Linked DNA regions of Homo sapiens: region 2 is linked to region 1. A link means that fine-mapping ties the variant in region 1 to the expression of a gene that starts in the linked region. Tissue or cell type: tibial nerve. Region 1 holds a variant in brackets; the other region holds the start of a gene. All regions are shown on one strand. Distances are between the middles of the regions.

Region 1 (5,145 bases):
AGTCTGTAATCCTAGCACTTTGGGAGGCTGAGGCGGGAGGATGGTCTGAGCCCAGGAGTTCAAGATCAGCCTGGGCAACACAGTGAGATCCCATCTCTTAAAAAATTAATTAATTAATTTTAAAAAAAGAACATTCGCTGGGCATGGTGGCTCACATTTGCAATCCCAGCACTTTGGGATGCCAAGGGTGGATCACAAGGTCAGGAGTTCAAGACAAGCCTGGCCAAGATGGTGAAACCCTGTCTCTACTAAAAATACAAAAAAATTAGCCGGGCGTGGTGGTAGGCACCTACAATCCCAGCTCCTCGGGAGGCTGAGGCAGAGAATTGCTTGAACTCAGGAGGCAGAGGTTGCAGTGAGCTGAGATTGCACCACTGCACTACAGCCTGGGTGATAGAGTGAGACTCCATCTCAAAAAAAAAAAAAAAAAAAAAAAGAACATTGGCCTAATGCTGGGCGGGCTTGGGGCGGTCTTGGGACTCTGTGCCAGCAGGAGTCCCCTCCCCACTCCCCAGGTGCCAGGGCCACAGAGATTCTGGGGACTGAGATAGGTTTGTGTGACCCATCTCTTCCCTCAGACCAGGGACAGGGTTGTGTCCCCGCATGGGGCCAGGCCAGGCAAACACCCCTTGGTATGTGGTCTCTTTCTTTCTCCTACCGCCTTTGGGGGCTCTCCCAGCCCCCTCCTGGGCCACCTCCAGCCAGGCCCAGCCCCCAGCCCCAGCTGCCCCGGCACTGCCCCAGGGGCTTATCTGGTCTGAGCCCTGTGTCCTGCTGGGCTCAGCTGCACCAGATGGGGAAGTGGTGAGAGCTCAGCAGGTGGCAGGAGGTGGTGGACAAGGAGGCTCTTAAGGTATCTGGCCTTCATCCCCCATCAGCTGGGGCTTTCCCCAGAGTGGGGACTGGCTTGGCCTCTGCAGAGAGGAAGCAGGCTTGATGGGGTGGCTCGCAGACCTCCTGAGTGAGGGAGATTCTGTTGGTGCCAGGGCAGACTCTGCTGGAATCTCCAGGCCCAGGATGGTACCAATACGTAGCCAACCTCCTGGCCTCGCATCTGGGCTCATCTGACCATTTTCAGTGGGAAAATCTGAGGCACAGAGAGGTTGCTGGGTCATCCCTGGGGCTGCACGGTCAGAGAGCAGCATTGGGGCAAGGGGTCTGGCAGGCTGCTCCTCTAGGCAGCTGTGGAGGGGGCTGGCATAGGGGCTTGTTGGTGGGAGGCAGATAGAACAAGCAGGAACAGTCCCAGGGGCAGGGGAAGGCCAGGATGGTTCAGGCCATGGGCCGGGAAGAGGATGTGGCGACTCCTTGTCCTTGACTTTCTATTTCGGGCTGATCAATGCTCTAGGGGCTCAGGATGGAATTGGGAGCCTTGGTCAGCCTGGAATAGGGTGAGTCGGTGTCCTTGGGGCGCAAAGGTCAGCCCACCCAGGCCCTGGCCGTTGGTGCCCCCCTTGCTCCTCTCCCAGGACCTCTCATGGACACTGGGCCCTCTTCCATTTTACTCCACCTTTGGGGTGAGACAGCCCTAGAAGCAGACTCCCTAGCTTCACCACTTTTTAGCTGTGTGACCTTGGGCAAGTTAGTCAGCCCCACTGTGCCTGTCTCCTTTCAGATGGGAATGGCAGTAATCTATCCCATAGGGTTGCTGCGAAGATCAAACAGGGCAATACTCTTAGTGTTTAGACCAGGGCCCGGCACACAAGAAGTGCTCGGTAAAGATTAGCAGTGATGAGGTGGTTGAGGAGGAAGCCGACAAGGCACAGGCTATGGATTTCATGACCACAACCTTGGGGCTCTCTTCCTTCCTGCAACCTGCCGTCCCCACCACAAAGGCCAGGCAGCGAACAAAAGCCTCCCATTTGCAGGGCAGAGTGGGTGACCCTCATGTTGGGGTCTGGAGTCAGTCTTCTGGAATGAACAAGGGGTGTGGAGAAGGCCCCAGCCCTGAGTCCTCTCAGCCCTTCCTGGGCCCTGCGGTTGCTGTGATCCAGGCGTCCTCAAGCGCCCAGGCCTGGGGG[G/T]CCGCCATCTTGCTCTGGCGTGGTGTGTTGCTGTGGCAACCTGGAGCCTCCAGCCCCACTGCACTCTGAAAAATTTATCAGGAAAACTTCCATGTTTAAAAATTAACCATGGGATTGAAATATTAAAGATGAGCTGCTTTGGGTGAGGCAGAGGGCAATGGATTTGGGGGTAGAGGAGCCAAGTCCTTACTCCCAACAGGATGGCACCTGCCCGTCGCCCAGTTTCCAGGGGCCTAGCCATCCATTCCCACCCATTCGCCCCTGTCCGAGGCCTCCTATGTAGATGGAGGCTGGGGCCGGGGTAGGGGGACAGGCAGCGAGGGTCCTGCCTCCCATTTCCTGTTTGTCCCTTTCCCATGATACTCCTGGGGCCCTCCCGTTACTCTGCCTGATGGTGGGGTGCCCCTCACCAGCCAGGAGGGCATAATGAGGCAGAGGGCTGGCCGGGCTGCCCCTCTCCATCCCAGCTGCACCTGCAGCCCAGCCCCAGAGAGGATGCACAGGTGCCCGGGCCCAGAGGGCAGAAAGGGGGCTGTGCCCAGGGCTGAGCACTCCTGCCTCTGCCCACTAGTAAAGGAGCAGGGTCGTGGAGGAAGAGGAGCTTGGACAAAGCATCTTGCCCCCAAATCAATGGTCCCCTCAGCTGCTAGGGCTGGCCACCCCTTCCCCAGGGCTACTGTTGCTCCCGGGATCCCCCCGACTCCCACCTTCAGGCCTCCCTGGGTTGACTCCCCCTCTGCCCTCCCCCCACCCAGCCTGTCCATCTGGCCCAGGTGAGTTTCGTCATCCCAGCCTTCAACTCAAACTTCACCCTGGACCTGGAGCTGAACCAGTGAGTGTGGCCTTGAGCCCAAGAGGAAGGGCAGTGGTGGGGCGGGGGAGACATGGCTAGGGCCTGGCTGCTGGGGGTCTGGGGGTTGGGCCTGGGCAGAGGGGACCTGGGTCCTGACCTGAGGCGAGCCTCAAGCCCGACCTCACCTCGCCCGTGACCCCCCTTCCTGCTGCCCCCTCTGTCTCAGCCACCTCCTCTCCTCGCAATACGTGGAGCGCCACTTCAGCCGGGAGGGGACAACCCAGCACAGCACCGTGAGTGCCACTGCAGGGGACCGGGGCCGGGGATGGAAGGGAGGTGCTGTTTCTGTGGTTCTGTGGTCACAGGTGTAGGGACAGGTGGCCACTGGAGATGGGGTCCTGGGCCTGGCCCCTCAGCACCTTCCCTCTCTCCCGACCCAGGAGGCTCTGAGGGTGGACAGTGGGCAGCTTGAGTGCATAGGGCCCTGAAGTCCCCTCACTTGGCCCCAGAGCTCTGACCCCCAGCCAGCCCACGTGGGGCCTACAGGGACACTCGTTCCGAGCAGGCTGCCAGGAATCCCCCTCTCCAGACTCTTCTGAGAGGGACAGCTGAGGAAAGGCCCTTCTTACTCAATATCAAGGCCCCGAAAATCCCAGCTGCCTGGGACACTAGGGTCCCAGCCCTGAAGGCTCTAGAGCCTGAAAATGAATGAGTGTCTATAAATAGCCTGTCTCCCCCCCCCCCGCCCCCACTGCCTGTTCAGTAACTGGAGCACAAGTAATTCTGCAGGAGGCAGAGCTGGAGCGGGAGGGTGCCACTGGTCCCCCCAGCCCCAACCCATGAGTCTGGCCAGGAGGACACATGCTGCCCATCACTCCTCAGCCAACCACAGGCCCAGGGGTGTCCTGGGAGGCAGTGCATGAGGTTGTGTGTGATGTTAGGGGCGAGTACATGATTAAATGAGGTAATATATGGTTAGTGCCAGAGCAGTGCTGGGTACATGGTAGGTGCTAAATAAATGTTGCCTGTTATTCTCAAAGGAGTCTGATCCCTTCCCCAGCCCCAGCAAATGGCTAAGAACCCTTGCTGTACGCTGGGCTCCTATAATCCCATCACTGGGAGGCTGAGGTGGGCGGATCACGTGAGGTCAGGAGTTTGAGATCAGCCTGGCCAACATGGTGAAACACCATCTCTACTAAAAATACAAAATTAACCAGGCATGGTGGTGCATGCCTGTAATCCCAGCTACTTGGGAGGCTGAGGCAGAAGAATTGTTTGAACCCGGGAGGCGGAGGTTGCAGTGAGCTGAGATCATGCCATTGCTCTCCAGCCTGGGCAACAAGAGCGAAACTCCGTCTCAAAAAATAAATAAATAAATAAATACAAAAATTAGCTATGTGTGGTGGCACATGCCTGTAATCCCAGCTACTCGGGAGGCTGAGGCTAAGGCATGAGAATGGCTTGAACCCAGGAGGCAGAGGGTGCAGTGAGCCAAGATCACACCACTGCACTCCAGCTTGAGCGACAGCAAGACCCTGTCTCAAAAAAAAAAAAAAAAAACCATTGCTACAGTCCAGCTTCCTCATTTTATAGATGACGTGAAGGAGGCCCAGAGGTTCCTAACCCCAGAGGGCTAGGAACTTGCCCAGGGTGGCACGGCAAATTAGGAGCACCAGCCATCTAGAAACAGGCTCCAGAGCCCCAGGCATACCCAGGGATTGTGGCCACCTGCACACAGGGCAGCTTCAGTGTCCCCCAAAAAGCCTTGAGGCCCATTGGCTGCCCCCGGCCTCATGCCAGCGTTCTGCTCACTGTTCTGCTCCTTCAGGGGGCTGGAGACCACTGCTACTACCAGGGGAAGCTCCGGGGGAACCCGCACTCCTTCGCCGCCCTCTCCACCTGCCAGGGGCTGCAGTGAGTATGGGGAGGGGCCGGGCAGCTGGGAGAAGCCTCTGGCCCAGGCCTGGGGACGGAGGGGAGCTGCGCCTCTCTCTCCACAGTGGGGTCTTCTCTGATGGGAACTTGACTTACATCGTGGAGCCCCAAGAGGTGGCTGGACCTTGGGGAGCCCCTCAGGTAAGCCCCACACAACCCCTTGCCATCCTCTCTGGTGGCCCTGCCAAGCTTGTCCCAACAGCTGTTGCTGCCACCTCTTCCTCCTCCGGCTCCTCCCTCAGTAACCCCAGCCTCACTGCCCTCTTCAGTGACCCCAGCTCTGGTTCCCTCCCTCCTGTGCCCCAGCTCCCCCTGTGCCCCCAGCTCCAATGTCCCATCTGTCCCATAAGTGACCTCCCATTGGGCTCCAATGTCCTTTGCCCCTGTCTCTCAGGG
Region 2 (5,145 bases), 61 kb before region 1:
TCACCATGTTGGCCAGGCTGGTCTCGAACTCCTGGCCTCAAGTGATCCACCCTCCTCAGCCTCCCAAAGTGCTGGGATTACAGGTGTGAGCCAACATGCCCAGCCTGTGTGTGTGGCTGTTGTACATGAGATCACATTCTTGATTTGGCTCTCAGCTTGAACGTTATTGGTGTATAGAAATGCTACTGATTTTTGTGTGTTGACTTTTTTTTAATCCTAAAATTTTATTAAAGTAATTTATTGGGTCTAGGAGCCTTTTGGTGGAGTCCTCATGGTTTTCTAGCTATAGAATCATATCATCAGTAAGCAGAGATAATTTGATTTTCTCTTTACCTATTTGGATGCCTTTTGTTTCTTTTTCTTGCTGATTGCTCTGGCTAGGATTCCCTAAATACATTTATATTTTAAAGTATTTTCATTTTTTGGAGTTGCATAGTGTTGCACAGTATGACTACACCATAATTTATTTAACCTACTGCCCGTTGTTAATCAATATTTTCGTTGCTTTTGATCTTTTGGTATTGCAAACAATGCTGAGGCAGATACCTTTATTATACAAATTCTGTCACACATGTGAAAAAAGAACATGCTGAACCATCTTGCCTCTTAAAGTTTCTGCTTGGAAGTGATGTCACTTTTTTCTTTTTTCATGAGCCAAAGCAAGTCATATGGCCAAGGCTTCGTTCGTTCATCAGGGCTGAGATGTATAAGCTTCCTCAGGGAGGAGTCCCACTGGAAGAGATACCAAGTTTATGTACTGTATATACCTCTACCAGTGTTTAAAAAATATCACCCTGGGCCAGGCGCGGTGGCTCACACCTGTAATCTCAGCACTTTGGGAGGCCGAGGCGGATGAATCACCTGAGGTCAGGAGTTCGAGACCAGCCTGGCCAACCTGGTGAAACCCCGACTCTACTAAAATACAAAAATTAGCCGGGCATGGTGGCAGGCACCTGTAATCCCAGCTACTCGGGAGGCTGAGGCAGGAGAATGGCCTGAACCCGGGAGGCAAAGGTTGCAGTGAGCCAAGATTGCGCCACTGCACTCCAGCCTGGGCGACAGAGCGAGACTCCCTCTCAATAAAAAAATAAATAAATATAAAAACTATCACTCTGGTTGCTGAATGGAGAATGGATTATACTGGGGAGAGATAGGAAGCTACTCGGGAGTAGAAGTGAAGAATTGACCGCAGTACTTTAGGCAAGAAATGATAGCAGCTTGAACTAGGGTGGTGGTGGTCTGATTCCAGATGTACTTTGGAGGCAGAGTTAGTAGGATTTTTTTCTTGGAGTGGGGATGGGCACAAGGGAAAGTACTGAAAGACAACTTCTAGGTTTTTGGTTTGAGCAACTGGGTGAATGATTGTGACATTTGAGTAAACAGTAACATTTTACTGAGAGGGGAAGACCTGGGGGGAGAACAGGTGGTTTTTTGACAGGGGCAGCGAAACAAATGTTCTGTTTTGAATGTGTTCAGCCTGAGGTGCCTATTAGACATCCAAATTGAAATAGCCAGTAGGCACTTGAATATGTGAGTCTGGAGATCAGACAGGTCAGAGCTACAGAAAATCTGAAGGTGTGGCAGAGCTGAATTGTAAAGCTGTGGAGCTGGATGAGATCTCCTAGGGAGATAAGGGAGAGGGATAAGGGCTAAAGCGTTGGCATACTCCAAAATATATAGGTGAACAGTGGCTTTGGATCCAGCAAAGGGGACTGAGGAGGAACCATTGAGATAGGGAAAAAAACGGTAGAGTGCTGAGTCATGGAAGCAAAAAGAAGAAAGTATTTCAAAGAAGGAATAGTCCATCTATAAGTTGGATATGATAAGGATAGTATTTCAGACTGTGGAAATCACAGTTGACCTGGATAAGTACAGTTTTTGTGGGGAGGTCCCCAGCTCTCCACTGAATGATCTCTTATTAGATCAAATTTGATCTCTAATTAGCAGTCTAATTAGATGGGTTGAAGAAAAGATGGGAAGTGAGGGATAAAGATACGTCTTTTGAGAAGTTTTGTTGGGCAGGTAATAATTGAAGAACGGGAGGGGGACAAAAATGTGAAGATGAAATGATGTGTAAGTGAAATCTTTATGTAAACTGCAAATGCTCTGCAAGTGTTAGGCTTATTTTGTTATTTAGTATTCAAACTTCTAGGAATTTCAATGCAGCTCAGTGTGAAGAATCACTAAAAAGCGACCACTAGTCCTCAACTTGAGGGCCATTAAGGGGCAAAGCCGTCTAGCCAGTGAAGAGCCAAGAAATGAAGAGACGGTTTGAGAAGACGTAGGCGGTGGGGGAACGGAAAGAGGAATCGCGAAACTAATATTGTCCTTCCAAGGACACCGTAGGGCGGATCTCGCAGCTACGGCGTTCTTTTAGGGGTGGAGCCGGCAGGAAATTTAAACTGAAGCCGCGGCCGAAAACGCCAAGAGATTGATGCTGTAGCTGCCCTGAGATAACCAGGACTGTGGAATCGGGAAGAGCTCATGGAGCTCGCGAATGTAATACGGAGGCCTCTGAGGAAGGAGTACGGAGGCCGAGAAGGAGCCGGCATTTGATGAGCGAACCGGGAAAGGGTACGGATGCCGGGAAGGGGAGAAAGAAAGGCGGAAGGGGTCGTTAATAGCTGAGGCGAGGTGCGGAGTCGTGGAGGGGGCTTAGGAAGTGACCAGCGGGTAGGTGCCGAAGCTGAGGAGGGTATAGGGGCCGGGAAGGAGCCACAGGAGTTGAGGGGACCGAGGAATGAAGGTGGCAGAGGAACGTAGGGGACAACAGCCTGGAGGGATGTATGGAGATTGAGATGGACAGGAGGTGGCCAAGAGGTCACGGCCGTTGACTGAACGGAGTCTGAAAGGAGGCGGAGGGCATGAGGGGCAAGAGCCTGGCGGGAGTCGCGGGATGTAGGTCGGAATGGAGTTGAGTCTTGCTGTTCCCAGGAGTCGCGTTTCTGTGCGCGTTTTGGGAGACAGTAGTGGGCGGGAGGCATGGAAGTTCCAAGGGTTGGTGAAGATGGTTGAGTTGCTGTTATGTCCTTTCTCAGGAGACGATTGCCTCGAGCTGGAGAGTTCCATGGCTGAGAGTAGGCTCCGGGCCCCGGACCTAGGTGGGTAACAGGACAGAACTAGGGACGTGAGGTGAAAATTGCCCCAGGGTCTCTTGGAGAAGACCGAAAAATGTTCCCCCTGTTGGAGTTTTCGATCACTCAGTGTTTTTATGTACTTATTTATTCATTTTATTTATTGGGATGGGGTCTTGCTGTGTTGGCCAAGCTGGTCTCAAACTCCTGGCCTCAAGCAGTTCTCCTGCCTAGGCCTCCCAAAATGCTGGGATTACAGGTGTGAGCCACTTCACCAGGCCCACTTAGTGGTTTTATGTGTGTGTGTGTATGGACGCAGCATCATAGACCGTTTTGGGATTCATGATAAAGGTCAAGTAAGAGTCATATTATGAACAAGATTAACAGACAGATGTGGAGTCAGGATAGAGTGACTTATTAAATATATAAATTAATACATTCATAGTTGTTTACAATAAAATCCTTAAGTTAAACACTGCTACCTAATTAGGTAAGTATTTTAGCACATGGCACTTCCCTCCGTACTGCCCCTTTAGTTAATATCATCTAGTTGGCCGGGCGCGGCTGCTCACGCCTGTAATCCCAGCACTTTGGGAGGCCAAGGCGGGCGGATCACGAGGTCAGGAGATTGAGACCATCCTGGCTAACACAGTGAAACCCCATCTCTACTAAAAATACAAAAAATTAGGCGGGCGTGGTGAGGCGTGCCTGTAGTCCCAGCTACTCAGGAGGCTGAGGCAGGAAAATTGATTGAACCCAGGAGGCGGAGGTTGCAGCGAGCCGAGATTGCGCCACTGCACTCCAACCTGGGCGACCGAGCGAGACTCCGTCTCAAAAAAAAGAAAAAAAAAATACCGTCTACTTTTACTTCTGGATTGTTAACAGATATGCCATCGGCTTGTTGCCTTTTAAACAGTAATCCACTTCATTTACTGAGTTATTCATTCTTCCCATCTCTTGTTGGTTTTTTTTCCCCCTTCTGTTTCTCTGGAGAACTTCAAGAGTGTTTTCAAAAGGAGGCTTTGTGTGATAAACTAAGAATATATTTATTTCAGCCTTGTAGTAAAATTTAAGTCAATTTTTTTTCCTTCAACACATTGAAAAATTACAGTATTTTCTCCTTGTTTTCTTCAGCATTTCTTTTTTATTCTTGCTGCTTTGTAAGTGACCTCCTTTTCTCATTAGATGTTTTAGATTATGTGAACCTATGGATTATATTGATGAAAGAAAAAAATGTTTTATTTTATTTATTTTGAGGTCTTGCACCCAGGCTGGAGTGCAGTGGAGCAATCATGGCTCACTGCAGGTTTGGCCTCACCGGGATCAAGTGATCCTCCCACCTCAGACTCCCAGGTAGCTGGGACTGCAGGCACTCAACACCACGCCCAGCTAATTTTTTTTTGTTGTTTGTTTTGTAGAGACGAGGTTTTGCCATGTTGCCCAGGCCGGTCTTCAACTCCTGGGCTCAAGCGATCACCCTCCTCAGCTTCCCAAAGTGTTGGGATTACAGGAGTGAGCCACTGCACCCAGCCCAATATTTTAGATTATACATTTTTATATTTGTTCTTAAAATTTACTATAAGATGATAATGTGTGGATTTTAGAGGGTTTTTATTTTCGTTTTTATTCCAGTTTGATTTTTTTTTTTTTTTTTTTTTTTTTTTGAGACAGAGTCTCGCTTTGTCGCCCAGGCTGGAGTGCAGTGGCACCATCTCGGCTCACTGCAACCTCTGCCTCCAGAATTCAAGCAATTCTTTTGCCTCAGTCTCCTGAGTAGCTGGGATTACAGGAGCACGCCACCATGCCCGGCTAATTTTTGTATTTTCACTAGAGACAGGGTTCCACCATGTTGGTCAGGCTAGTCTTGAACTCCCGACCTCATGATCCACCTGCTTCAGCCTCCCAAAATACTGGGATTATAGGCGTGAGCCACCACACCTGGCCTCCAGATTGATTCTTTAAATTTTTTTAAATTATTATTTTATTTTAGAGACAAGAACTTGCTCTGTTACCCAGGCTAGAGTACAGTGGCACAATCATAGCTCACTGCAGCCTCAAAGCCCTGGGTGCA

What was found. PIP is the estimated chance that this variant, and not a neighbour inherited with it, causes the effect.
Region 2: it holds the start of DBF4B, and the variant in region 1 is fine-mapped to the expression of DBF4B in tibial nerve (GTEx, PIP 0.90).

Annotation. Positions count from the first base shown.
Region 1 is chr17:44,766,942-44,772,086 of GRCh38, forward strand. It overlaps ADAM11 (ADAM metallopeptidase domain 11), which reads left to right. Exons shown (of 27, transcript NM_002390.6): 3 at 2,777-2,853; 4 at 3,041-3,107; 5 at 4,643-4,728; 6 at 4,815-4,890. Among named protein-coding and RNA genes, the nearest start is that of ADAM11, 11 kb to the left of the region's middle. The variant G/T (reference allele first, on the strand shown) is at 2,022.
Region 2 is chr17:44,706,266-44,711,410 of GRCh38, forward strand. DBF4B (DBF4B-CDC7 kinase regulatory subunit) reads left to right here and starts at 2,400. Exons shown (of 14, transcript NM_145663.3): 1 at 2,400-2,574; 2 at 3,039-3,101. The coding sequence starts at 2,556. RefSeq lists enhancers at 2,206-2,720, 2,721-3,234.